2 separate regions of the Homo sapiens genome follow, and region 2 is linked to region 1. The links come from fine-mapping of genetic effects on gene expression. A gene starts in region 1. The other region holds a variant in brackets. All regions are shown on one strand. Distances are between the middles of the regions. Region 1 holds the start of NR6A1 (nuclear receptor subfamily 6 group A member 1). Region 2 overlaps NR6A1 (nuclear receptor subfamily 6 group A member 1).

Evidence for each region. PIP is the estimated chance that this variant, and not a neighbour inherited with it, causes the effect.
Region 2: its variant is the best candidate, but not a certain one, in a credible set for the expression of NR6A1 in whole blood (TOPMed, PIP 0.67).

Annotation. Positions count from the first base shown.
Region 1 is chr9:124,763,718-124,779,121 of GRCh38, forward strand. It overlaps NR6A1 (nuclear receptor subfamily 6 group A member 1), which reads right to left and starts at 7,594. Exons shown (of 10, transcript NM_033334.4): 1 at 7,303-7,594. The coding sequence starts at 7,402. LOC124900274 (a long non-coding RNA gene) reads right to left here and starts at 6,763. Exons shown (of 2, transcript XR_007061773.1): 1 at 1-6,763. It overlaps LOC107987126 (a long non-coding RNA gene), which reads left to right and starts at 7,640. Exons shown (of 2, transcript XR_001746926.3): 1 at 7,640-8,056; 2 at 8,985-10,120. OLFML2A (olfactomedin like 2A) reads left to right here and starts at 13,416. Exons shown (of 8, transcript NM_182487.4): 1 at 13,416-13,643. The coding sequence starts at 13,554. RefSeq lists silencers at 6,294-6,543, 7,084-7,663, 13,320-13,419, 13,490-13,789 and enhancers at 7,376-7,943, 7,734-7,993.
Region 2 is chr9:124,511,808-124,524,363 of GRCh38, forward strand. It overlaps NR6A1 (nuclear receptor subfamily 6 group A member 1), which reads right to left. Exons shown (of 10, transcript NM_033334.4): 10 at 5,468-10,986. The coding sequence ends at 10,898. Among named protein-coding and RNA genes, the nearest start is that of NR5A1, 11 kb to the left of the region's middle. RefSeq lists an enhancer at 249-801. The variant A/G (reference allele first, on the strand shown) is at 7,414.

The sequences.
Region 1 (15,404 bases):
GACAGAAAGACTAAATTAGATAAACTGGAATTAGCCATAATAAAAAGAACATTGCATCTGATCCAGTGGAGCATAAGGAATTAAAAGACTGAATTTTTAATTCTTCCAAGGTGATACAGCTTCATACAGCTTCATGATTGAAATGGGGACTTGAATTAATAAAACTAGTTTTAAAAATGAAAACTGCCAGGCGCGGTGGCTCATGTCTGTAATCCCAGTACTTTGGGAGACTGAGGCACGTGGATCACTTGAGGTCAGGAGTTCGAAACCAGCCTGGCCAACATGGTGAAACCCTGTCTCTACTAAAAACACAAAAATTAGCTGGGCATGGTGGTGGATGCCTGTAATCCCAGCTACTCAGGAGGCTGAGGCAGGAGAATCGCTTGAACCCAGGAAGCTGAGGTTGCAGTGAGCAGAGATCGCACCGCTGCACTCCAGCCTGGGCAACAGAGTGAGACTCCATCACAAAAAAAAAAAAAAGAAAAGAAAAAACTATCTGGTTAAGCTATTCCCTTCACTGATTCAGTCTATGCTTCATTTTGCGGTAGATTTGTTACTAAAATGTTTCCTGAGCTCTAAACTATGGGATTACACCTGAAGGAAACATCATAGATAAAATATCACAGGAAATCTAATCAATCATCTCTTTTTTTCATCAGTGTTTTAGAAGAAAATAGAGAATACAGAAATTTGGGCATTACAATGATGGGTTGGAAGAGCAAGCAGAACCCACTCTTAGACCTCCAAAATGCTCTTATACACAGATCTAAAAATCCATGATTCTATGAAATGTAAGGAGGAACTGGAAATAAAAAGCTGGGAAGATTATCCATCTTTTTCACATGAAGAATTTAGTTGTGCATTTCTCTCTCAAAATATGAATCTTGAGTATATTTTTAATGAGTTATAAATTGTTTACAATGCAAATAGTTGTTCAAGCAAATATCTGTTAGATACATTCTCTGCTAATAATACCACTACAATTCCAATGTGCTATAGCTATTACTCTAACAACTCCCTTAATCACTATTACCAAATTTTTAAAATAATTTCTCACTTGGGCAGTGAGTGCAAAGTCACTATTCTGGGTCAAACCACCCACAGAGTATATCTTCAAATCAAATGCCTGGATTTGTTTCCCTGAATACATTACATGTTGCTGCCCAGGGAATTGGTTTTAGAAACATTACACCTGCCAGCTGACTTATCAGCAGGGCCCATAGAACTGACACCAACTTAAAGGCAAGAATCAGTCCAGAAACAGAAAAATATACTGCTACTGCCATCTGTGGTTTATGCTTGAATAGCTTCTCTGGTGTAAACAAATTGAAGGGTGTAGAGTTTACAATTAGAATCCAAAGGCCTCATCATTTAAAGACACTTTTTTAAAGTTAATTCTTAATGTAACGAATTGTATGGTTTATTTAGTATAAGACGTAAGAATCCGTGATTCTGTATTTGAGATTATATAATGCTGATGGAGAAACCACAAACTACCCTGAATGAAAACTACTCCATTGCATAACTTTATTTGTCCCAAACACACACTCCTTAAAGAAACTCAGAACACTTGAAGCCCTCCTGTGAATTTATAATTAGAATCATTTCTCTTTTGAAATCGTGACTGTCAATATTAAAACAGCCCCCGAAATTTTTAAAGCAAAAAAATTTTAGGAAATCCAGGAATTTTCTATTTAGACGTAAGAATTTGGCCAGTTTGCTTCTGTCAAGATAAAAATTTGGGAGTTCAATTATTCCTATAATTTTTTTAAGAACAAAAATTCCAAAATGCAAATGAAGTTTCAAAGTAGGCTATTTTCACAACGTATTTTCTCTCAGTTTGCTTTCTCAAATGACAACCACTGTAGCTTGGGGATCAAAAGATTTGGTGCAGCTGGGGGTGGGGAAAAAAGCAATTCAGCTCCCCAGCAGCCGGCTGAGGAAATCCTGGTCCGCTCCCAAACTAAATCACTGTTAATTAGAATTACCGGGTTACACTAGTAAAGTCTTATTTAAATAACTGTAACCACTGAAAAAACTCTGGGTTTTTTTGAGAAGCTTTTCTACAAAGGCTGCTGTTTAATAGCAGGTAACAAAGAATGAAGAACGAAATACCGTAGGAAATGTTTTATTCTTTCAAATGATGCTCTCCTCTTTTTCCTGTGGCTATTTCTCCGCCATACTGAAAAACAGGTTAGACATCTCACAGTGGTTTTCTTCTGATTTTCTATTACTTACTAAGGGTGTTACAGTCTAACACCCTTGTCTTTTTCTTAAAGACAAGCCATGTTGGAAAACAATCAATGAACAAAAGACTGGGCTGGATTCTAGAAATACTGTATATCAAAGTTACATCTAGAGACGTTTTTTAAATTTAAGCTCAGCTGAATCTGAAACTTAAGCTCTAAAAAGCTCAATACCCAAGAAAGAATTACCTGCTCAGTACCAAACCACTTTCTTGCTCATTTTTAATAATTCTGGTATTTCTGAACCCTAGTTATCGAAGGCATCCATAAACCCTTAAGAAATTACCTGAGCCAGGAAAAAACTTTAATTAAAAAGTTAAGGTTGATCTTAATGCAGAAGTGTGAAAAACATTTTCCTTCACAACTTAATTGGTTTTGGAAATGCTCTCAAAGTATTACAAAGAGTTGGGTATATCAGATCACTACTTATGTGGGCAGATTAGATAGCTACCTTCTGTTAAAAACTGTTTCAAGCACATTTATTCTTTATTGAAATACAAGCGTGTTTATCTGTTGATTCAGAACTTTGATTTTTCTAATTCTGACCTTTTTCCCACATGACTAGAATCTGTTTTTACACATGAAATAAGGCACTTTTACTGTCCTACTTAAAAAAAACAGACTGACCCAACAATGTAAAATTTACTCTAAAACACATCTTCTCAAGTGTCACTTTCAACTTAATTATTATGCATGGAAAAATACTGAACAGAAAAGTGTCATTAATTTGGCTATAAATCAAAAATAAACTTAAGAAGCAAAGATTATGACCAGCCCCAAAGATCTCGATGAATTTGCTGACAATGAAGTCTCCTAATGTGGGAGAATCTATCCTGGCTTTATGCAATTCTTAAGCTAGAAGTTGCCATCTGAACACAATTCATTAACAAACCAATTTTTCAACATAACCAATAAATAATATCTACCCAATTATAAAAATGAAGTGGTAAATCTTCCCACTAACACAAATGAAACACAGCTCCAAGCTCCAAAACATGCAAGCATCATTAGCAATTTAAAGCCAACTTGCACAACAAACACTAGGGGTGGTATAAGAAACTTCCTCTACCAATGTTACAGCAACAGTTGGCATTTCTACCTACCATCCTCTACTATTCTAAAATGTGGTATTTTAATCTAAACTCTATTTTCCACCTTTGCCCCAAAACCCTAGGAAAAAAGTAGGGAATGAGAAACCAGAAAATTCTAAATAAAATATGGAAATGCATGATTTGGACATATTTTTGGAAATTTACCAGCAGTTATTTTTTTCATTAGCTCCCCATCCAACTCCCTTTCATGTACTAACACATGTGCCTTGCATACACCTTTTTGCTACGGAAGTCAGAATGAATTATAGATTAGGAATCATGTCATCATATTTTGGTTACATGAATCAGAACTGCTGAATGATTTGGTGGCTTGTACACTGGAGACTGTAAATGTGGTCATCTCCCACCTCAGCTATGCAAAATCACCAGTGAATTTGCTCACTGTCGCCTTTCTTCTACCCTAGCCGTCTTTGGAGGTCACAGAAGCTACAAAAAAAGAAAAAAAAAAAAAAAAGAAAAACCTGCGTGCTGTATGTACTAAGAAACAACAGTACTACAGCATGTTTTTGGTTTTGTTTTTTTCTAATGGGAGTAGGAAAAAATTCTGGGGCAACTCAGAATTAACTTAATTTTTTAAATCACAGAACTGAAAAGTTAAATCATCATGGGAAATATTTGCCAATTTATTTTCCAGCATAAACATTTGGACGGCATGGTTATAGCAGAAGAAAAAGGCACCGTGCTATTCAGTGAACTTCTCCCCATTTCCTCTAAAGTGTAATTACATAAAATATGCTTTTAATTACTTATAATGGCTTATAACCTTCCTTTGCCTTCCTTTGCTTTAAATATTTAAAAGTATATTCCCTCATTCTCTTAAAATGAACAAATGCAATATTCAGCATACACTTCCTCAAATCATTCATCTTCCTTTGAAATCCCAAAAGGGAGCAGTCCTCTATTACAACTAAATGAGTTCATGTTTGTTATGAAAACCTACAAGCAACAACTGAAAATAGCGCAGTCAGCACAGGGAATTCCTGGAAGGATGATGGTGCATCAAAAGGCTAGAAAGAAACTCTGTTCTGACAGAATAAAAACCATTCAAAGGACTGTAAATTCAGCATCAATGGTGTTTCCGGTAGGAAAACATTTCTAAAATGCCACCTCCAGTTTATTTCTTCATGACAGAGACCAAAAGACCCCCTATCTGTATAGTTGTCTCTTGAAAATAGTTCATATAAAATAGAAATCAGTCACTAGGAGTAAAAAACAGATAATTCATTTCTTTTCTACTCAGAACAAGCAGTTTCATATATTTTTGGAGAAAAATATTAATTAGGAAGCAAAAAAGAAAAAATGTGCCCATTGTTCCATAGGCAAACTTAAAAAAATTTTTGGCAATTCTTCTGTGAGCATGTTAACTTCATAAGTGCTAATGAACATAAATTGTAAAACATTGCACAATGCTAGTTTTTACACTGAAAAATATCCCACAACGGTCTAGCGTCTAGTGTATTTTAAGCCCATCAAGCTGCCAAAAGTTCCCATTGTATTTTCAGCAAAAAGAAAACATCTGTACCACTAACTTAGACTAATGTAAAGCTTTAAAGCCACCTTAGTCTAAATGGATTGCTCGATAACATTCTTTCAAATGGTTCTGACCAATTGAGGAAATGAGACTATGAATGGGAAATCTGATTAAGAGTTAAAATTACCATTGAGTTCTTTAAAATGTACTAATGAATAATTAATAACAAATGCAGTTCTTAGGTTTCTCTTACAACACTATTATTCTCAAGTAGAATTGAAAGCAATATTGCAGTAAATATTGAATTGCAGTAAAATCCGTCATCTACATTATATGCACAGGTGGGTACAGGAAGTATTCACACATAGGAAGGCATCACAGAAATATACACGCTAATATGGGATATAAGATAGGTTGGGGTTTGGATTCAAAAAAATCAGCATGGGAAAATTTAGATCAGGATTTACAACACTCACAAATTAATACCAAACCAAATCTCCACACAAACTAGCTTAAAAAGTCAAAGGCATTAAAGAAATCCTTTGTTCCTATTATACTGTCTCCTTCTACCCTAACTGGATTCCAGCTTCCCCCTTTGTGACACGGAATTTTATTGATCTCAAACATGTTCACATTCAGAAATTAGTTGCCAACGACAGCCCACGGAACGGCCAGCCACCTAGCCATCATACATCATACACAAATTAAAAAAAAAAAAAAAAGAGCTCTGAAAACACATCATTATTTTTAAGATCAGCAACATCAAGTGAAGTTAACCAAGCTCTCTTCTACACGGACTTTTCCCTTTTGTAAAAAACACCAGATCTCCTGAACTAACAAAATGTTTGACTAGTTAATAAACGTATGAAGGCACGGATCCAACCCAAGATTTCCACCGTCTGTAGCTACTCACTCATTCAACAATTGAGCGCCTAACTGACCTATTTTCAGGTTACTTTCCTCACACCTGCCAGGTCACTGTCCTGATTGAGAAACCTCTTGGTGAAGCAGTTAATTTTTAGTGCCTCCTAACTGTCCCGGGTGTTTGCATTCAATTTGAAATCTGTTACTTGTTAGACACTGTTCGGTCCTAGATCTCTCAGAGAACTGCGAGTTTATGGCGCAGCGAGGGGAGGAGGCACTGATCTCTGAGAGCCTCCCTTTATTCGGAAATGAGGAGATGTGAAAGGTGGAAAACAGGGCAAATAAATAAATCGGGTTTGCCGCCGGAGCGTTTGCCGGCCGGTGCGAGCACCCTTTGTAATGCAGGCCTCCCGGGGCGATCGCCTGCGCTAATTGCTCCAGGGCGCTTTCCAAGTTCAAAAGTTCACCTTTTACGACCTCACAAAAGCTCCTAACACGTTACCAATAAAAACATTCCGCGGCAAACACCGAGGAGGAAAATATCAAACAGATACAAATAAAACACCCCGCAGGGGGAGGGAGCGAAGGGGAGGAGGGCGAGGAAGCCCCGAGGAACCTGAGGACCCGGCCCGGGCGAGGGGGCGAGGGACGAGCGGTAGGAAGGGCCGGGCCAGGTGAGGGATTCTCAGCTCCCAAGGTCCCGGATCGGGACAAGAAAGAGGAGAACTGAGACTAAGAGGTGGGGACCGGGACCTGCCGGGCAGAAGCCGGGAGGAGGCAGGTGTCCGGGGCCCCGGGGCGGGCTGGAGCCCTCGGCCAGGGAAAGCCGTTGCCTGGCGGAGAGGGGAGCTGAGCAGGGGCGGAGACCGGCCAGAGCGCGCGGGGCGTTGAGGAAGGTGAGGCGCAGGGGAAGCAGGAGGCGCGAAGGGGTCCGAAAAAGGAAACGACTGGGGGATGTCTAGCGAACGGGGGTTCGGCAGAGGTGGGGGGCTCGTAGTATTCAAGGAAGAACGCTCGAGGCTGCAGAAGAGGAAAACGCTCTAGAAAGCTGAGCGGTACAAGGGTGCTGTGGAGTCGGGTCAACAGGGCAAGAAGGGAGCGTCCTCGGTGGGAGGAGGAACCCCTGTAGGGGAAAAGAGAGGCTCTGCGTTAAGGGAACCCGAGTGAGGGGATGCCCCCACTGACGGACCGCGGTGGGGACTTCCAACCTGAGGAGCCCGGGGGGAGGGGAAGGTTCGGTGCTGGGAAGACAGGGGGAGGGGACCCGGGGGGAGGAGGGAGGATTGGTGCTGAGGGGACGGGGGGAGGGGAAGCCTGTGCAGAGGGGACGGGGGGAGGGGGAAATGAAGCTCGGTGCCCAGGGACCCGGGCAGGGGGAGGGTCCGCGCAGAAGGGAACAGGGACGAAGGAGGAGGATCCACCCTGAGCGAGACCGGGGAGGAGAGGGAGGGTCCGCGCCAACGGGGAACGGGGTGAAGGGCCACCCTAAGGGGCCGCGGGGCCGCTGCGGCTTCCCAGGGCGAGGGTCGGCAGAGAGGAGGGGGATCCCTGGCGGAGGCTCAGGAAGCCGGTTCCTGCCTGGCCCGGGCGTCGCAGGCCCCTCACCCACCGTTGCGCGGCGGCGGAGGGAGCGCGGCGGGAGGCTCCAGGAACCCCGCCGAGCCCCCGCCGCCTCCCCCTCCGCTAGGCGGCGGTTCGTCCCGCTCCATGCGGTGGTGCCTAGGGTCCGCGCCGGGTTTGTTGCTCCGCCATGACCGGCGCCCTAGTCGCCGTGGTCGTCGTCCGCCGAGGGGAGGAGGTTGTCAGGAGCCCGCGAGCTCCCGGCCGCGGCTCTCTCTGGGCCCCGAGCCGCCCGGCTCCGCGCCGCTCCGCGCCCCTCCGCGCCGCGCCCCCTCAGCACTGGCCAGCTCCCTCCCCTGACGTCACACGCCGCTGCCGCGCAAGGCCCTGCGGGGCACGCTGGAAGTTGGAGTCCGCTCAGCGAGGCCGGCCACGCCGACCGCACCAACTGAAGGGGTGGAAGGAGGGATAAGAAGTCCTGAGAAGGGAAAGCTAAAGTCTGTCAATATCAAGAACCATGACAAAGCGTTTGATGTCTATGTAGTAAGCGGATACTTCCGGGCCTTGTCTTGATTGTGATTTCTACCTGATCAAAGTTCCCTAAGAGTCCTCGTAACCCCCCACCCCAACAATGAGTCTTTGCGAGGAGGTGGATCGCGAGGCAGCCGGGTGAGCACGTGCAACGAAGCCCAGCCCTGTGGGCGGGGCCCTGGAGGCGGGGCTTGAAGGTACTCACGTGGGCCTCTCCCTGCCGCTGCGGGACAAATTGGACCGGAGATTAAAGGACCGGAGTTTAACTCGAGGTGACTGCGTTCGTATGCAAATGGAATATATAAAACTCTTCTTTCCGGGGTAGTCTTTAAAGACTTTTTACCTCCGGGTGGGCGGCAAAGACTAAAGTTTCCCCTCCTCCCCTTTCATTTTCCCCCTGCCCATAGAACAGATGGGCAAACTAAGCTCCGGGCCATTGGGGCTATTAAAGAAAGCCCTAGGCTCTTGACCCCAGGTGTCTTGAAACCTTCCGTTTAAGAGGGATCCCTTGCCCAGCCTTGTTTGCCTTCCCCTTTCCTCAGTTTCCCTATCTGTAAAAGGGGGTTGGAATAAGGACAGGATCAAGTTGGAAGATCGCAAACCCCTGCCCCTCCCACCTCAGTTTCCCGAAGCTTTCCGGAAGCAAAATCCCGAATTTTGCAGCGGCTCCCGGCCGAATCCACCCGCTGCGGCCACCAGGTGGCGCGCGGCCACCGGTCACTAGGCCCGCCGGGGTGTCCGTCTTCGGCGACCCCATCGGGAAAGGATTTCGCTGCTGCCGCCAAGGGTCTAAGGCCTACCTGGCCCACTTGAAGACAAAGAACGAGAACGTTGGTGCTTTGCCCACTTCTGCTCTGCCGGATTATGCTGCAGCTTCCTCGGTGGCCGCTCATTCGCCCTCTCCTGCCCCACCCGCCCCACCAATCCCTTAGCCCTTTTATTTTTTTTTTGCCTAATTTTAAGTCCTCGTCCTGGCATTCGCATCCCTGCTTGGCCTGACCCTTGCCCACATTTCGCACCATACCCCGTCCCTCACCTGCTACGAAAGTTGCAACGCTTCTCTGCACTTGGGGGCAACTGGACCTTACCAACCCTGGTGAAACTGTATTTCATACGTAATCTGGGAGACTTACATTAACGCTCTGCCGTCTAAACCTCATACCTGCTCTATGAGATAGCAACAATATTGTCCCTTTCCAGCACTGATGAAGTCCACCAGAAGTGATGGGGATTCCAGCTCCATTCTGTCACACACCAGAACCTTAATCCTTGGCTCCTTCAAGCTGGAACGCGGCTGACTTCACCTGACCCACTCCCAAACTCCTATTCATCTTTCAAGATCCTGTTCAAATGTTTCTTCAGTGGCATCTTCCTTAATACCTTCCACCGAGGGACAACTAGATCCCCTCTGCTAGGTAGCAGTGTTTCAGGAGCTAAACCCTGTGACTAAGAGAGGACGGCCTGCCATTCCCTCAGCTGTGGGTTCTAAAATACTTTAGGACCTTGCTGGGCGCCGTGGTTCATGCCTGTAATCCCCACACTTTGGGAGACTGAGGCGGGCGGATCACCTGAAGTCAGGAGTTCGAGACCAGCCTGACCAATATGGAGAAAACCCGTCTCTACTAAAAATACAAAATTAGCCAGGCGTGGTGGCGCATGCCAGTAATCCCAGCTACTCAGGAGGCTGGGGCAGGAGAATCGTTTGAACCCAGGAGGCGGAGACTGCGGTAAGCCGAGATGGCGCAATTGCACTCCAGCCTGGGCAACAAGAGCAAAACTCCGTCTCAAAAAAAAAAAGAAAGAAAAAAAAAGTCAGGACCATCTGGCCTTTCTCAGGAATCTACCTTTTTGTCACAGGTTCTGGTGGTAGTGAGTTCTCTGTCCCTGGAGATGCCATCAGAGCCTAAGTGGCACTGCAGAAACGTGCAGCCCTGGAGTTTTGGTAGTTGATGAAGATTCTAAGTCAACCCTCTTTAGATGGGCAGAAGAGTTCAGCCAAATGCTCAGCCCCTGGAAACAACTCCTCCAGTCCTTCAGACTACAGCTCTGTTGTCCCTTCCTTCCATAAACCTTCCCACACCTCCCTGACTAGTCACATCCCTTTATTCTCACTCATAACCCCAACTGCTGAGTACAGATCTGGCACATAGTAGGCTCTCAATAATTGCTGACTGGGTGAAAGAATGGATAAAAACAGCTAACCTTAGGTGAGTGACTTCTGAGCCTCTATTTCCTGTCTTCTAAGGGGATGGGTAATAATGATAGTTGCTACCTAGCAGGAATGCTATGAGAATTAAACGATGCTTGCAAAGCAATTAAAGGTCTGGCCTAATAAATGGAACCTCTTACTAATGTTATTTAAAGAGTGGTTCTAAATCTCAGATGCATGTCTTCTGAAAGTGCTTCTGGGAGGAGTCAAATACCACAAGACTGAGAAAAACAAGGGAAATGACTGTGCTAGAGACCCCAGCCACTGTCCTAAGCATTGACAGCCCAATGAACTAAGCACTCACTATGAGTCCAGCACCTACTATGGGGCCTTTTATCTAATCTCTCTACATTTCTTCCAACAATCCTAAGAAATCAATACTTTCTCCCCCAGTTTAGAAATGTGGGGACAGGTTCAGAAAGATGAAAAAGACTCTGCTACCACCTGCAGGACTCAAAAGATCTGGAAAGGAATGTGTCTAAGGGTAAGGAGGGATCTTAGGGGGCTGTGGTTCTGAGGCCAGAGGCAGCAGACAGACGGGACCAGACTGGGATACAGCTAAGAACAAGGCAGGCATGGCCGGACATGGTGGCTCACACCTGTAATCCTAGCACTTTGGGAGGCCGAGGCGGGTCAGATTGACTGATCTCAATCGGGAGGGATGACTAGAAGTGAGACTAGGTGGAGAGGAAGGCTTTCAGGTGGAAGGAACAGCATGTGCCAAGGTCCCAAGGCCAGCCAGATCACGGCTTGGCCCATTTGAGGAGCTGGGAGAATCTGTGGTGACCAGAGCCCACTGAGAGAGAGAAGGGTAAAGAGGAGGCAGCCAGAGATTATCAGGTCATGTGGGGGAACAGCCAGCAGGGGGCAGAGTTCCTCTAGTGACGGCAGCCTTGCTCTTCCTTGTCCTGCCTAGAGTCAGAGCAAGGCCGCAGTTCATCAAGAAAGGGCTTGGGGAGGGAATCCCCCCTGCCGGCTTCGATTTCTTTTAAGTACGCTCTGTCCCGTTTTTGAATACATAGGACACACACATTACAAAACCCACAGGATGCAATGAAAGTTCTTACTCCCTGGATCTCCTTAGAACCACCGTGCTGACTTTTTGCATTGTTTTTCAGATAGTCTATGTCCATAAGAACATACACGATATTTACTTTTTACACTAATCTAGCCCCGGTTTTGATGCCTCCCAGGGGATCTCTAGTTATAGAAGAAGCTTATTTGTGGATGGGCACAGTGGCTCATGCCTGTAATCCCAGCACTTTGGGAGGCCGAGGTGGGCGGGTCACGAGGTCAGGAGTTTGAGACCAGCTTGGCCAACATAGTGAAACCCTGTCTCTACTAAAAATACAAAAAATTAGCTGGGCGTGGCGGCAGGCACCTGTAATCCCAGCTACTTGGGAGGCTGAGGCAGGAGAATTGCTTGAAGCCGGGAGGCGGACATTGCAGTGAGCCGAGATTGCGCCACTGCACTCCAGCCCGGGCGACAGTGCAAGACTCTGTCTCAAGAAAAAAAAAAAAAAAAAGAAGCAGCAGCAGCTTATTTGTACTCAGTGTGTGCTTTGCACAGGGTTCTTTAATTCAGCTGAGAGTTGTAGAGCACCGTACCTTGTGCCAGGTCAGTGGTTCTCAAACCCTAAGCCCCCTGGAGCCCTGGAGGGTGTGTTAAAACACAGATTGCTGGACTCCATGCCCAGAGTTTCTGATTTTGTGAGTCTGTAGTGGGGCCTAAGAATTTGCATTTCTTTTTCTTTTTTTTTTCTTTGAGAAGGTCTCGCTCTGTCACCCAGGCTGGAGTACAGTGTCACGATCTTGGCTCACTACAGCCTCTGCCTCCTGGGTTCAAGTGATTTTTGTGCCTCAGCCTCCCAAGTAGCTGGGACTACAGGCATGTGCCACCACGCCCAGCTAAGTTTTGTTTTTTGGGTTTGTTTGTTTGTTTTTGAGACAGAGTGTCACTCTTGCCCAGGCTGGAGTGCAGTGGTGCCATCTCGGCTCACTGCAACCTCTGCCTCCCGGGTTCACAAGCGATTCTCCTGCCCCAGCCTCCCGAGTAGCTGGGATTATAGGCATGCACCACCACATCAGCCTAATTTTTGTATTTTTAGTAGAGGCGAGTTTTCACCATGTTGCCCAGGCTGGGAGAGTTTGCATTTTTAACAAGTTATCCGATGATGCGGAGGCTGAGACCAAGGACCACACTTTGAGAACCACTGAGTTCAATGTTCATGGGGAGAAACTAAGAATGTGCCCTAGGAAGTCATGCTCCAACACAAGGAAACAAACACACCAACAAGAAAGACAGTCCCATTGAGCAATAAATTCTATGAAGAAAATGAGACCAAGCATGGTGGCTCACACTTGTAATCCCAACACTTTGAGAGACTAGGGTGGCTGGATTGCTTGAGCCCGGGAGTTTGAGAGCCTGGGCAACACAGAAGACCCCATCCCTAAAATAAATACAGAAATTAGCCAGCATGGTGGCACATGCCTGTAGTCCAAGTTATTCAGAAGGCTGAGGGAGGAGGATAGCTTGAGCTGGAAAGTTGACGATACAGTGAGCTGTATTCGCAACACAGCACTCCAGCCTGGGTGACAAAGGAAGACCCAGTCAAAAAAAAAAAAGGAAATGCTGGGTGCAGTGGCTCATGCCTGTAATCTCAACACTTTCGGAGGCCAAGGTGGGAGGATTGCTTGAGCCCAGAAGTTCAAGACCAGTCTAGGCAACAGAGTGAGACCCCGTCTCTGCAAAAAAAAAAAAAACTTTAAATTAGCCAGGTGTAGTGGTGCACACCTGTAGTTTCAGCTACTCAGGAGGCTGAGGTGGGAGGATCACTTGAGCTGGGAAGGTCAAGGCTGTAGTGAGCTGGGATCGCACCACTGCACTACGGCCTGGGCAACAGAGTGAGAAAAATAAAAATTTAAAAGCCGGAAGCTACTGGAGTTTGGGAGCCGACAGGAGGGATTCCAGAGGGAAGGAGAAATGAAAGACGGAAGACAGGTTGGGGTTGCTGAGCCTTGGGAAGGCTTACAGCAGTCAGGTCCCTGTCCAGAAGTGGGTGAAATCGGAGAGCGCAAGGGCTCACGTGCCCTGGGAACATCCGTCTCTCATGCGAACTTTACAAACACTCCAAAAGGAAAGCACGAGTCCCCCATCTTACAGATGAGGAAACTGAGGCACACAGGTGAAGGGACACGCCCAAGGTCCCACGACTCACAGGACAGGACCTGAGTCCGTGAGAGGAGCCCACGCGCCTCGCCCTGGCCCCGTTGCTCCTGCCGGCTGCGATCGAGACCCACCCTGGCGCGCGGGCAGGGATGCCCTTGGGAGAGCCGCCCGACGACGGGGAGGCCCCGCGAACGGCGGGCGGGGCGGGGCGGGGTGCCCCCTCCGCCCTAGCTCCGCCCCTGGCGGCGCTGGAAGACCCGCGGGGCTGGCAGCAGGGTGCAGGCGCGGGGCGCGGGGCAGGCAGAGCGGGCGAAGGCGCGGAGCTCGCAGTGCAGCCCGCGCTTCCCAGCGTCCGTGCCCGGCCGCCTGTGCCTACCGTGCCCGTGGCGCCATGGCCGCTGCCGCCCTCCCGCCCCGGCCGCTGCTCCTTCTGCCGCTAGTGCTGCTGCTGAGCGGCCGCCCCACGCGCGCCGACAGTAAGGTACGCACGCCCCTCGGACCCGCGCGGCTCGGCGGGTAGCGGGGCGCGAGGGGGCGCTGTGGCTGGGGTGCGGCCCGGGAGGGAGCCCGGGGCCAGGGCGGAGGAGCCGGGAGCTGAGAGACCGAACCTGGGACTTCTCAGCACTGAAGCCGCAGGGGCAGGGGCCCCGAGAGAGGGGCGCGTGGAGGAACAAGCGCTGGAGATGTAGGGATGCTAGGGACCCGGGGCCTGAGGAAGGGGCGCTGGGACCGGGTCCGATTCCCGGAGGGGTCGGGGGATTTCCCCGGAGTGCTGGCCAGACTCGGGGTTCGTAGGGGAAGCTCCTGGCAACTGTTACCCAACGACTCCCAGGCTTGCAGCAAGCCCTGGGCCACGGCTTTCACGGCCCGCTGGGGACTGGGGGTCTTCTCTACCCGATGAACGCAGCCGCGCTGGCCACTCGCCTGGCCTCTGATGTTCTTGCCAGGGACCGGGTGCACCCCCTGGAGGACTAGGTAGCTCCAGAAGTGGTCTGAGCTGTTCTCTGCTGTGGCTAAGAGGATCTGCTCTGGTGTCAAGCCGACCTGGGTTCAGTCGCACATCCGCTTCTCATCCGCCATCGCCCATCTGAGCCTCCGTCTATTCACCTGTAGATACAGGGAGAATCATGGGACCCACTTCCTGCAGTTGATGGTCTCTAGATGCGGTGTGGTCATGCCTGTAAAGTACTTAGCACTAGGCCGGGCGCGGTGGCTCACGCCTGTAATCCCAGCACTTTGGGAGGCCGAGACGGGCGGATCACAAGGTCAGGAGATCGAGACCATCCTGGCTAACACGGTGAAACCCCGTCTCTACTAAAAATACAAAAAAAAGTAGCCAGGCATGGTGGTGGGCGCCTGTAGTCCCAGCTACTCCGGAAGCTGAGGTAGGAGAATGGCGTGAACCCGGGAGGCGGAGCTTGCAGTGAGCCGAGATCGCGCCACTGCACTCCAGCCTGGGCGACAGAGCGAGACTCCGTGTCAAAAAAAAAAAGAAAAAAAAAAAATACTTAGCACCAGAGCACTTGGGGTGTTCTGGAAATGACTCCCTGATGGCCAGGTTCAGTGGCTCACACCTGTAATCCTAGCACTTTGGGAGGCCAAGGCAGGTGGATCGCTTGAGGCCAGGAGTTCAGGACCAGCCTGGCCAATATGGTGAAACCCCATCTCTACTAAAAATACAAAAATTAGCTGGGCGCAGTGGCACAAGACCAGTCTAGGCAACAGAGTGAGACCCCGTCTCTATAAAAAAAAAAAAAATTAAATTAAATTAGCCAGGTGTGGTGGTGCACACCTGTAATCCCAGCTACTCGGGAGGCTGAAGCAGGAGAATCGCTTGAACCCAGCAGGCGGAGGTTGCAGTCAGTGGAGATTGCGCCAGTGCACTCCAACCTGGGGAACAGAGCAAGATTGTGTCTTAAAACAAAACAAAACAAACAAAAAAAAAAACGGACAGACCTTGGGGAGAGTGAGGAGCAGGACCAGAGCCCTGGTCACAGAGCGTGAGGGCAAAAAAGTGACTTCCAATACCTCTCCAGCCTCTTTCCTGGTAGAATGTGAGTGTCCTGCCTGCCCACGGACAGATAAAAGACAGAAGCCACTAGCCACACGGTGAGTATATGAGCAGTGGGCACTGGCCAACTCTCAGCCTGATTCAGCTCAGGGCATGAAAGCACCCACGTACAACGCTGCTCATGTACTCCAGAGACAAGGAGGGAATGAGTATTTTTTCTAATTTACAGGT
Region 2 (12,556 bases), 250 kb before region 1:
CTTTCCCAAAGTGCCAGGCCCATTTCCTGGAGGTGGGATAAGGAACAAACAAACCAGAGGCCCAGAAACTGAAACAGAGAGAGGGACAGAATCATCAGGCTGCAGAGTGGAAAGGTGGCCAGAAAAAGAGAGAGAAGCTGCAGAGGCTTGGGCAGAAAATATGAACACAGAGAGAAAGGGGAGACGCAGTCGGAGGGAGGGAGGATGACAGAGAAATTCAGAGTGGTGAGGGTTGGGGAGAGAAGAAATGAGAGCGAGAAGAAATGAGGAAGAGAGAGAGAGTAGGGATGAGAGAGATTCAGACGGAGAGAGAGAGACTGAGGCAGAGAACGAGAAGCGGGAAGGGCCGAGGCCTGGAGAGCTGGAGGTGGAGGGAGGGTGGATGTGGAGACCCCGTGCAGGGCAGCGGAGGGGGCGGGCCTGCTGGCGGCAGCAGAGGCTGTTTCCGCTGCACCCCTTATCAGCCTGCTGCCAGATGTTCAGATCCGATGCCAATGTCAGAGAAGTCCATAGTGCTGGGTCAAGGCCGTGGCCAGCGGGAGCCTCAGCTGCAGTGTGGGGAGGGGGGCTAGGGGCCTGCAATAGACCTGCTCGCTCTTCCCCCTCTGCCTGGTGGCTCTCTGGGCTGGACCACCTCGTGGGGATGGGAAAGGCCAGGTGCCCCTGGGGCCAGTTCTCTAGACTGAGAGCAGGGACTTGTGGAGGCAGATTGGGGCTCCTGGCAACACGTGGACACATACATCTTTGCACATTCGAGAAAGCACATGGACACACACTCAGGCACATGAGTGCACAGTGCCACATGGGGACAGCTCACAGAGTGAAGAGCTGCGCCCCCACAGCTCTCCTCAGCACCCCACAGCCTGCTAGAGCCCCTGCTCTGCGTGTTCAGCTTAGGGCCCCTACCCCCCCGACCTCTCTCCTGACCCAGGACTGCAGCCCGCACTGGAGAAGCAAGATAGGAGCCTCTTTGTGGCTGGTACTATTCCTAGGGCCCACACTGCTCTTCTGTGAACTGGATGCACCCAGAACCTGCTGCCCCAAGGGCTGGGCAGAGGACCTGGGACCCTTAGAACATGAGGCCTGGGGGAGCCCCCGTAGGAGGTGCAGAAGGTGGCATCTGGCAGAGCTGGGCTCCAGCCTTGGGTCTGGCCTCTCCACCAGGCTCCTGGAGCGTGCAGTGCAGCTGGGGCCCCCAGCCTGGGGTAGCTTATCTCTCGGTGCACACGCTTGGCCCTCAAGGGGTGACCCAGCCTTGCTCCCCACATTCCACTTCAGCCACGCAGCCGGTGGGCGCCCCCACAGCCCCGAGACAGGGCCTGTGCTTGGAGGGTGGTCAGAAGCCATCATGCTGCACCACCCCCTGCTCTCGGCTCCAGCCCTGCACAGCCATCTCTGGTGTCTCTTCGCTTGTCTCTGCTTTCATCTCTGTCACGATGAATCTGTCACTGTCGGTATCTTAATCATGTTCTAATTTGTTTCTCTCTGCTATTTTCAGCCGCCTAGTCTGTTTTTCTTTTCTCTCTCTGGGGTCCTTGAATGGGGCCACATCTAAGGATACTGACACTTTTCTTTCTAGCTCACAGTGGCCAGCTGAGTGGGAATGTCTATGAGAACTCGGGCTTGGGTGAGGGACAAAGGGCTTCAGAAAGCAGAGACCTTGGAACTGTAGTGGGTGAGCTGGGGCAGCCCAGGGAGCCCAAATTCAGGCCCCCTCCCACCCACTGCTAGGAGTCAGCCTGGATGATGGACACTGATAGGGCCTGGTGCTGGAGGGCTCCCCCATGTAGTGGAGAAGCCTGGGGGTGGCAGCAATGGGGAGGAAGCTGGGGCTGGAGGTCTCCCAGCCTGAGAGCCTCCTTCCTGTTTGTAGGGAAGTCACTGCCTCACAAACCTGCTAGCGGGAGAAAAGGGAGGCCATGGGGACTTCCGGGAAGCTGGCCAAGGGCCCCAGGCTACCCTCCCTGTGCCCACAAGGGGCCCTCTGGCCCTGGCTTAAAATAGTACAGTTCCTCCTGTAATGGTGCTGGGCCCAGCCCAGACCTCAGAGGGCTGCTGGCTGGCTGCTCGTGCTGCTGGCAGAGGCCCGGGTACCCAGCCCTCCTCAGATTGTGGCTGGAGGCTTTGTCTTGGTAACATGGGTGGGAATGGGGAGTTGCAGAAAAAGCATGGGTTCCTGAGTCAGAAGCCCTGGATTCAGGTCTCAGCTCCAACACCGACTAGCCGTGAGACTTTGGGCTGGTCCATGTTGCCTCCCTGAGCCTCAGTTTCCACTTACGGAAAACAGGGTGAGCACGTGGCTTTTAACCTGAACGAGACCACGTATGTAGCTGATGCCTATGGACCTTGCCACACATAAAGTGGACACTCAAAAAATGGGAGTTCCTTTTGCCTCCAACTCACCTGAGGAAGTGCCTCCTGGAAGCACTCCTCAGTACCTACACTGCTCCTAGGACTGGGTGTTGAACAAGGGTTTGTGGAGAGGCAGCATGCAGGGAGGGCAAGGATGGGGCTGTGGTCTCCATGGTGAGACTTGTTGCCAAGGGAACAAGACTCCAAGAGCCCCGGGTCTGGCAGTTGGGCACTTTTGCCATAGGATCTGAGAGACTGATTACCACTGTGGACCTAAAACCCTGATGGGCAGCCAGGCCAAGGCTCCTGGCTCTGCTAAGTTTCTGCTCTTGGGGTGTAGGGGCGACAGCTCCCCGTACCTAGCCTCCTTTCATGTATTGACTTCACTGAGACCCAACTTTAAGCCAGCCACACTCAATCTTCCTTAACACTGCCCCCTGTCCCCCAGGACACAGGTACCAGCACCTCCATTTGTCTGACAGGGAAAGTGAGGATCAGAGAAGCATCTGTCTGGGTCAAGGTCACATACAACCAGGAAGGGCAAGAGCTGGAATGAGAACTCAGGTGGTGAGATCTCTGGTTGACGTGCCTGCTGTCTCATAGACTGCTTGAAGGAAACGACCCCTGGAAAGAGCTCTGTGTAGTCAGACTCAACCTCATCCCAGCACTTTCCCCTGCCATCATTTCCAGGGGCTTCTGTCTTCAGACTCTGACTTAATTCGGAGTAGCCAGCCTTCCCTGTTTCTTCAGGTATGCAGATGGTCTTACGTACCTCTGAGGGTTTGCACAAGGATAAGAATCACAGCACAGATCCTGCCGAATAGTAGGTGCTCAATCGATGCTGGTTTATATTCATTCCTGACATCTTGCCAGTTATGTAACCTCAAGCAAATGACTTACCCTTTCTGGGCCTCTGTTTTCTTATCTGTAATATGGGATCATTATAGCATTAACCTCACCGGGTTGCTCTGGGGAATCAGTAGTACTCTAATGCACACAAAATACTCAGCACAGAGCTTTGCTTTGTTTTCTAGATGTTACTTTATTATTCCTCCATATTATTGGCTGGCACCCAGGAAACTGAAAGCTCAGTGTCACATAAGCAGCAATTTATGTATTTAGAGCAGTGTCCTTTTATTCCATGGAATATTATCCCAACAGAATTTTAACAGGAGGCAAAAATGTCCAATGCTCAAATGCTTTTGGTAGAACCTGGGTTAAACAACATTAGTTTTCTTCAGGTGGGACTTCTCGAGACTTTAATATGCCAGTAAGGGCTGAGAATCAATGAGGATGATAGAGCGAGTGCAGCACTTCCCATATTTTTGGCAACAGAATTCAGGCTTCTTCCATGGAACCATCTCTGGGGGTGGGGTGGGGTGGGGGGGAGGTTCCTGAGCTCTGGGAAGCCATACCAATGTAGCGCCTGCAGTATTCCACATGACTGGGCAGCACCGCTTTTCAGCTCACTTTGGTTGGGTCTGTTCATCCACCTCTTACAGAATTAATCCTTTATTAATGTTTTTTATTTTTTTGTTTCTATGGCAAAAGGTTCACCCAAAGGCCATTACTGAGCTTTGCTACAAACTCTGGATATCCACATTCAGCACTACTGAATTGCTAAGGCTGAGCAGGGAGGAAGCCAGTTGTAACTTTAGTATCAGATAGACCTGGATTCAAAAGCCAATTCTGCCACTGACTAATGTGTCATCTGAAGCAAAAGGCTTAACTTCCTTGAGCCTCAATTTGCTTATTAGAAAAATGGGGCTGAGACCTACCCCTTGCAAGGCTGTTATGAAGATTACTGAGACGACATGCGTGAAGCACCAATTACGGCGCCTGGACTCACGAGGCGGTGGGCCAATGCGTCCCTTCTCCTCCCGGCACCTCTGTGTATCTGTTCCCTCTTGTGGGGGCAAGGAAGACAGTCTATTAATTCGTTCTGCAGCATTTGCTTTGTTCTAAACCCATCTCTTTCAAAACTCAAGGGCTCTCTGGTTTCTTGTGCTGGAGGCTGAGGAATGGGAAGGCAGCTGGGCTTCCCTCATTTCACACAAGAGGATTAATAGACTTTGATCAAACCCTCCTCAGCCTTTATCTTCCCAGCCTGAGAAGCCTTCATCTCTCCCATCTGTCTTCATACACCCCTCAACCCAAACTCTGCCACTTCTCTGATCATATGAGCAGGCCTACAGGACAGTTGGGCAGATCTGAGTTCAAGTACAAACTTAACACTCCTGTGTGATTTGGGCCACATCCCTTGATCTCTTAGAGCCTCCATTTTTTCAGCTCTAGAAAAGCTATTAATAGACCTCACCTATTTTCTGGAAAGACAGTATTACTTTGCTAGAGCACAGTGCATCCTAGGCCATCCATTGGCCTCTCATGCACTATGATGCTGCTCTCTTGCCCAAGACTCAGCAAACAGCTTTCTTTCCCCACACTCTTGAATGTGGCATCCAAGGCTCCCAACTGCTTCTCCAGCCTCAACTCTTGCTAATCCCTCCCACCTGCCATCATTCTTGCCATGACAGTCCCTTGTTTTACCTGAACACTCCCATCTTTCTGATACACAGCCAGGCCTTTGGACATGGATCCCTCTACCTGGCCTACCTGTGGATCCCTTTGCCTCGTGACTTTCTTCAAGGGCCACCTTCAACAACACTCATCTGTGAAGCTCTTCCTGACTATCCTCCATAGAACAAGCCACTCCTTCTCCAGGCCCTTACAACCCCACATACATCCCTAATGACAACCTCATCCCCCCTGCACTGCAAAAGTCTGTATCTGCCTCTCCACTAGGCTCACTTCTCTGGTTGTGCCACTCACCTTGGGAGAGTCTTTTCACCTCACTCAACTGTAGTTTCTTCACTTATAAAACAGAATAATCCTTGAAGTTCAATATGGTGCCTGGCACACAAGTTGGGCACTTCAGTCAGTGCTGGTTCATTGATTCAGGCAGTTCCGAGACACCACCTTCTGCCAGAGCCTCAGCAACAGAATTGAGGTGGGTGTCAGCTATGAGCAAGAGACACAGGTCTGAAGGCACAAGCCGGCGCCTCAGGACACGCCATCATCCCTCCCCAGAACCCCAGACAAGCTTCACAGACAGATGCCATGTGCAGAAGGATTCACATTTATTGGTTCAAATACAGTACCTAACACTTGCTAAACATGCATTTCACACTAATTGGTCACATTTCCACAGGTAGTCAATTCACAGAACAGGGCCCATCCCTTGCCAGCTGGCAGGGTGGGAGGTAGCAGAGGGCCTGGGTAGCCTGCAGAGCCCGCCAGCTATCATTTGGTCATGGAGGGTTGATGGAGTCAGGCTGGCGGGCAGCCCTTGGCCGGCCCTTTGGAGACAAGGGCTCAGGGACATCCCGTTTCCTCGATTCCTACACACAGGACTGTGGGTGGAGGTGGACCTAGGGCAGGTAACCTGGGGGTAGGCTCGTGGATGTGTGTGCCACTAGAGCCCTTAAAGGTGGTGTCTGTGGGAGTGGTGCTCCCTATGCCCTGGAGCACAGGAAGGAAATGGAGGCCTCTTCAGGGGGGTGACTAGTCCCTGGCTGGGTAGGTGGGAAGGAATCCCCAGACACAGCCCAGACATCACAATGCAGCCACCAGCCCCTATGGCAGACCTGGGATGGCAACACAGACAAAAACACCAACACCCCAGGGCAGGCGGGGCTTCTTTCCCGACAGAAACATGTAAACAGAGCAGGAGCTACAGTATTCTTTTCCCACAGGATTCCTCAGAGAGGAATCGACCAGGATGTCGCTTAAGAGGTAGTTTTTTTTTTCTTTTTCATGGAAATTTGAATCAACAACATTATCACCTATTACAAGACATTTTAGAGAAAGAAAACAATGGTCATTAAAGGGCAAAGACGGCAGGGCTAGATCTGGGGGACTAGCCTCCACCCATAACACAACTTTTGTTCTTGGGCTTGGAGCAGGCTCTGACCTTACTCACCGCCTCCCTTTGAGCCTACAGTTGATTCCTGTGCAGGCTGTGGTCCATTTAGGGCTTCAGGCCCAGAAGACGGATGCTAGATGGGAACTGGGCTAGACAGAGGGACCAGGCTTCTATGAGCGGGGAGAGGCAGGGCCACCGTGGCTCGTGTCGTAGGACAGCTAGAAGCCTTCAAGTCTCATGGTGGCCCAGGTCTGGCCAAAGCAGAAGCCCCAGCTTGCTCCAGACTTGGCAGGCTCTCTGGAGTTCCCGCCTTGGAGGAAACAGTTCAGGTATGGCTCCCAAGCCCAGAAAAAATGTTGCTGTGGCAGCCTAGAGAGGAGTTTCTGGGGATCCTGTAATTAAATACACATCCCTGAGCTGTGGCCCCAGAAACCCTTGTCTCCAGGCTAACCAGTTTCCAACACTTGGTGGAATGACTGCCGTTTCTCATCCTGACACACAGATAAAACATCATTTCACAGATACTGGACATAGATGCTTCAAGCCAAGGAGAAAGGGAGGATGATCAGTTGCAAAGGCAGAGGGGAGTGCAAGGGAACTCTCATGGGCTGGGGTAGGGGGAGGCAGGGGAGTAAGAGTAGCGGATTTTTTTGTTAAATTTTGTTTGTTTTTTGGGTTTTTTTTTTTTTTACTTTAAAAAAATCAATTAAAAATTCAAAGCTTAATAAAAGGGCTGGTCTGAAAGACTGGATTCTTAAAATAATTGCAAAAATTTCAAAAGCAACAAGGAAAAAAGATACACACCAGGGGCCCAGAGAGGAGGGCCTGGAACCACAGCTCAGCTTTCTGTCCTGCTGAGAGGCCAGGGTTCCCTTAATTCGACCAACCTTGGACATGGCTTAGATGCTGCCCACAGTGGGTTTGTCTGTCTCCATCAGTCCCATTCCCCCAGGAAATCAAGAACAAACAAACAAATGTAGGAAATGGGTAACAGAGCAATGCACCTAGCTCAGAGCCCAGGATTTTAAGGATCTGGTAACAGTGACCATGGCAGGTACTCACCTCCCTGAAAAAGGGTGGCAGGTGAGAGGCAGGTTGATGTGGAGTGGGTGACATTCAGTGATGCCACAGAAACCCTT[A/G]GGATTCCCCATTCCTTGCTCTGGTTCTGGGAAACAGGACAGGGAGGATCCTGCTTACTTCCTCCTATCCCTGGGGGCTTGCCCACCTCTCTTGTGAGTGGGGCATAGGGGCTGGGTGTCCTCTGAGCCAGGTTGAGCGCTTTGAGACAGATTCTGGGGAATTTCTCCAGATTAACGACGAGACCACCAAACCTTGCAAAGGACTCCAAAAGTCTACAAAGGCAGCCAGAGAGCATGAATAAGTTCCAAGATGCCAAACTTTTGTCTTGGGACAAGAAAACATCAAAAAGGAGAGGGAGGGAAAGGCTTGCATGTTTCAATGTAGTGCAAGGAGGTGGGATTCTCCTTTTCCATGTAGCTTTCAGAGTCGTATTTTTATGGCATAAAAATTCTCACTCGGCTGGGTGCAGTGGCTCACGCCTGTAATCCCAGCACTTTGGGAGGCCGAGGCAGGCGGATCACGAGGTCAGGAGATGGAGACCATCCTGGCTAACGTGGTGAAACAATGTTTCTACTAAAAATACAAAAAAAGTTAGCCGGGTGTGGTGGCGGGCGCCTGTAGTCCCAGCTACTCAGGAGGCTGAGGCAGGAGAATGGCATGAACCCGGGAGGCGGAGCTTGCAGTGAGCCAAGATCGCACCACTGCACTCCAGCCTGAGCGACAGAGCGAGACTCCGCCTCAAAAAAAAAAAAAAAAAAAAAAAAAAAAATCCTCACTCAAAGTGAGTGCTTTTGGTGGTTGGGGATCAGAGAGAGGGCAGAAAGAGAAATTAGAGAAAACATGCACAACTTTTCTCTCCTTCCACTCGCAAAAAGGCTACCTGTTAACCAAACATTATGGGGAAGAAAGCAAAAAACAAACACACCAAACCTCCCCTCCAACCTTTCTCCGTGTCCTTCAAACCAAATTCACAAATACATCTAGTGGCTGACCTAATGTCTCCACGCTGCTAGCTACACTCCTACCTTCTCCTCATAATACCTGAGTTTGCAATGCAACACATTCACTTTACCCTGTTTAAAAAAAGCCCACGTCATAAAAGGACTGGTGCAGAAGACATTAAAGACGGTCCACAGGTCAGGCTCCGGCTCGGAACACACAGCCACTTTGCTCTGAGATTCTGCAGGGCTCTCGGCAATGAATGGGCTCTTTGTTCTGTGGAATCTGCTGCAAACATTTGTAAAACTGGATTTGTACAATGGCAACTTGCAGAACCTTTCCCCTACTCCACAAATTAACAACTTGCTCTGTTCAATACTACGTTGTTGGAGAGACATGTTCTTGCCTCATCAGAGAGCAATTTCTTTTGACACCCAACACAACGGGTAAAATGTTTAATTTGAAAAGCAATTTCAAAAATAATAATTGGACAGATAGAGGCCTCAGCAAAGAACGATGCTGTACACAGGAGCTGTCTTAGAGAAGGCATCTGTGATATGTGTCTCCTTCCCGATCTGGAGGAAAGCAGCTCAGAGTCTGACCTGTGGCCAAAGAATGTGATCTAGTTGGTTAAATAAAATTCAGGGGAACAAGTATCGTGAACTTAGAAATAAACAGATACACACGAACACACAAGAATCTTCCCACTGACGTGAAAAACATGCTAGCTGGAGCTTTTCCTGAGGAACATGTCTCTTCCTTCTCAGAGCAACTGGGGAAACGGCATTGAGGAGTAATGTTCCGAGTTTTAGATCCATCAAGGGCCAAAATCATCACTCTGCTGGTACCCGTAACATTTCACCAGAAAGAAACAATTACAATCAGACATGGACTACCCAGTATGCACACGACGTGGTGCCCTCCTGGGTAGCTTTACTAGGTTGAGTTGAGGAGACAGCAAACAGCCTTTGACTAAATAGGCAGAAGAAGGTGCCGTGGGCCCTTCCAACCTACCCAGGCATGCAGCCAACTAAGTGGTCTGCTTGCCACACTGGCTGTGAAAGATACCTGGGTGTAGGCAGGACAAGCACCTGAAAGAGTTCAAAGACAGACCTGGTGTAGCGCTGGCCAAAGTCAAGAGGGTAAGGAACACGTCCTGGGATAAGGTGGGGCAGGTAGTGAGAGGTCAAGGAGTCCAGGCCATGTCTGCAGAGGTAGCAGCCGGGCCATTAGGAACCTGAGGTAGTTTAAAGCCCCCCTTCCCTTCCAGGTGCTTCTGGCTCCAGCCCTCCAGGCCTTGGCTGGCCAGTCCACTGCTGAAGTAAGGGGCAGCTGAGCCACTCTGGGCCTTGGGCTTTGTGTCCTGGGTCCCTGAGGAAAACTGGTCTCACTCTGGAGAGAAAAGGAGAACTTGGAGAAGAACTTAGGGGCAACATTTCTGGTCAGCAGACAGGTGAATGGTCCTTCTCATTGTTTAAAAAAGCCTGAAGTTTTCGGATTTAGACCTGAGGGTGCGGTAGGAAGGGGAGGGGAGAGGAACAGATTTCAAAAGGGGAGTGTCTATTCTTTTTGCAGTCTGGCCTTGCCCTACTACCCTTTGAAGAAAACAAGGTGAAAGGAGAATAAATCAGTAGTGGGCACCAGGCTTCAGAACATGGCATTCTGCTCAGCTGGTTTTTCAAAGGGCCAATAGGAAGTCAAATGTGTAAGGGAGTGGGAAGGAGGAAGGTGGGCCTCAGGAGATCCAGGTAAGGAAACTAGGTAGCTGGGGGCCCCGAGGGAGCTGGGAGGCGAGTCCTGTGGATCAAGTGATTGCCAGGACTTTGCCTAGATGGAAAGTTCGCAGTGGTAGACAATGATGGTGGTGCAGGGGTAAGGGGGGCAGCAAGGTGTGAGAACAGAAATTCTTCTGCCCTTAGGACTTGTTGGGTGGAAGGACACCTGCCTTAAATATGGTCACTGTGCCCTACTCTCTTAATTTTCACGCTTTCCAAGGAAAGGACGTGGCTCAATCCTCACCTCCTACCCTGTTGCCGTCTCACCAACCTTGCTTAGTGAATCTCCTAACAACACTTTGCCCCCTTACAGTGTGCCGTTTTATCTGGCAATTCTGTGGCTAAAAAAGGCAATTTGCTCTCTGACAGACAAATGTATGAGTCTGCTGAGAAAATGTGGAAAAAGTAGGGATGGCCACACCCCCCATTTCCATTGAGGTAGTCATCTTTGTCAACATTATGGAAATAGTCATCTTAGCCCCATCCCACCCTCTCCCTCAAAATACAAAAGAACTATTTCTAAACAATGACAACACTGTAACATTAAACATCTTCACATTCTGTAAACTGTAAGAAAATGCATTGGCTGCATTCACACAAAAGCATGTGCATCATGTTGAAGGCCATACATTCAACTCTGTCGTGAAATAAATATATAGAAAAATGAGGTTAAAAAAACAGACAAACAAACAAAAACTCTTCTTGCTATGGAGGCAACGGGAAATGCTGCTCCACAGCCTCCATCTTGGTCTCTCTGGCTTTTCCCTCCAGAGCCTGTCCTGCCCACCCAAGACGCTGTGGTTGGCCTGAGGAGGGCGCCTGGAACAGGTCATTCCTTGCCCACACTGGTCTTGCAGGAATGCAGCACCACCTTAAAGAGGAGGGGCAGCTGCTCCAGGGGCACATTCACCATCTTTCCTGGGAACAAGGGGGGAGAAGAAGAGTTAGCAGTGGTCACTCTAGTGGACAGGCAAGTCAGCCTCCTTGGGCTGGTGGAGGCAGAGTATCACCTTGCTGAGTGACTGGGGCAAGAGAAGTGCCAGGAGTATCACAAAGGTTGGACACACTGGGCTAACATCCTAACATCCAGACCCCTTTGGGTGCCCAGGGAGCCTAGTAATGGTGCCAACTCATCATCATTCTACTACTCAGGGAATACTTAACTCTGTTCTAGGTGGTTAAATGCATTACCTCGTTGAATTCTCACACTATTTCTGTGTACTACTTTTTACCCTCATTTTATAGATAAGGAAGCTGAAACTGACAGGTAGTCCAAAAAACTTCTGTCCTGTTTTCTTCACCCCCTCAACCCCCGGTAGATTTTCTAAGTAATATTCTATAAAATATTGCACTTCAGAATGGTTTAATAGGTTAATAAAAGTACTAGGGGAAAAAGAAGCAGGGGTAAAGAGGCAAATACATTTGAGAAACTCAGGGTTAAAAGAGCTTTACAGATTTCTTGATTGAAGGACTTCTCAGAGCATTCAGTGTGCTAATATAATTTATAAATACCTAAGGCTGTGTTTCTTCTGGCAAACAGTACCTCTGAGTGACCTGGGGAGCCGTTCGAAAACACTGATTATCTCCAGGCTCTACCCCATTCCAATTAAACCAGAATTCTCCAGGTGCAACTCAAACATTGATTTTTTTTTTTTTTTTAAGTTTTCCAGGTGATTGGAAGTGCCGCCAAGGCTGAGGACCCAGTTCTATGGAGGAGAGTGGCATGTAATTGTTGACTTCCTTTTATTTCACAGAGTGCCTGCTTAATATCTCATGTGGTAAACTCTAGCTTAGAAAATACTGAGACAAACTGTCAAAATATCCCTAAAATTCCAATAGTTTAGGCCCAGCTCACATTTGCTAGACTGCTTTGTGGCCCAAGAAATAGAAAAAAAAATTCCCTTGTCAGATTGAAATAATTTTCCTTTAAAATCGTATTGCTTTCTCCAGAATTTTTATGTTGAATTAAAAAACTGTATTGCTGAATTTTACAGGAAGAATCCCGGTCTATAGGTCACATTTCTGAGCTGCCCCTCAGTATCTGCTGGACAGCCAGAACAAGAATCTTTACCACATGAAGCAAGGCAACAACCAAAAAAGCCAGGATTTTATATTGAAATAGACCTATTTAAATGTCAGAAAGCTCAGAAGGGGTCAAGACCACATAGAAACATACATACATACACACACACCCCAATACATAAAATTCCTCTGCAAATACAGGATTTTAAACTTTATTTTTCCTATTCTTATTTTAAATTTTTTAGAGATGAGGTCTCACTATGTTGCCCAGGCTGGTCTTAACTCCTAGCCTCAACTGATCCTCTCGCCCCAGCCTCCTGAGTAGCTGGGATTACAGGCAGGAGCCACTGTGCCCAGCTAAAGATATCACTTTAAATAAATGATCCCTCAAAGCTCATGGGAAATTCTGTGAAATTAAGATAATTTTAAAAATTGAGATATAATTCATGTATCATAAAATTCACTC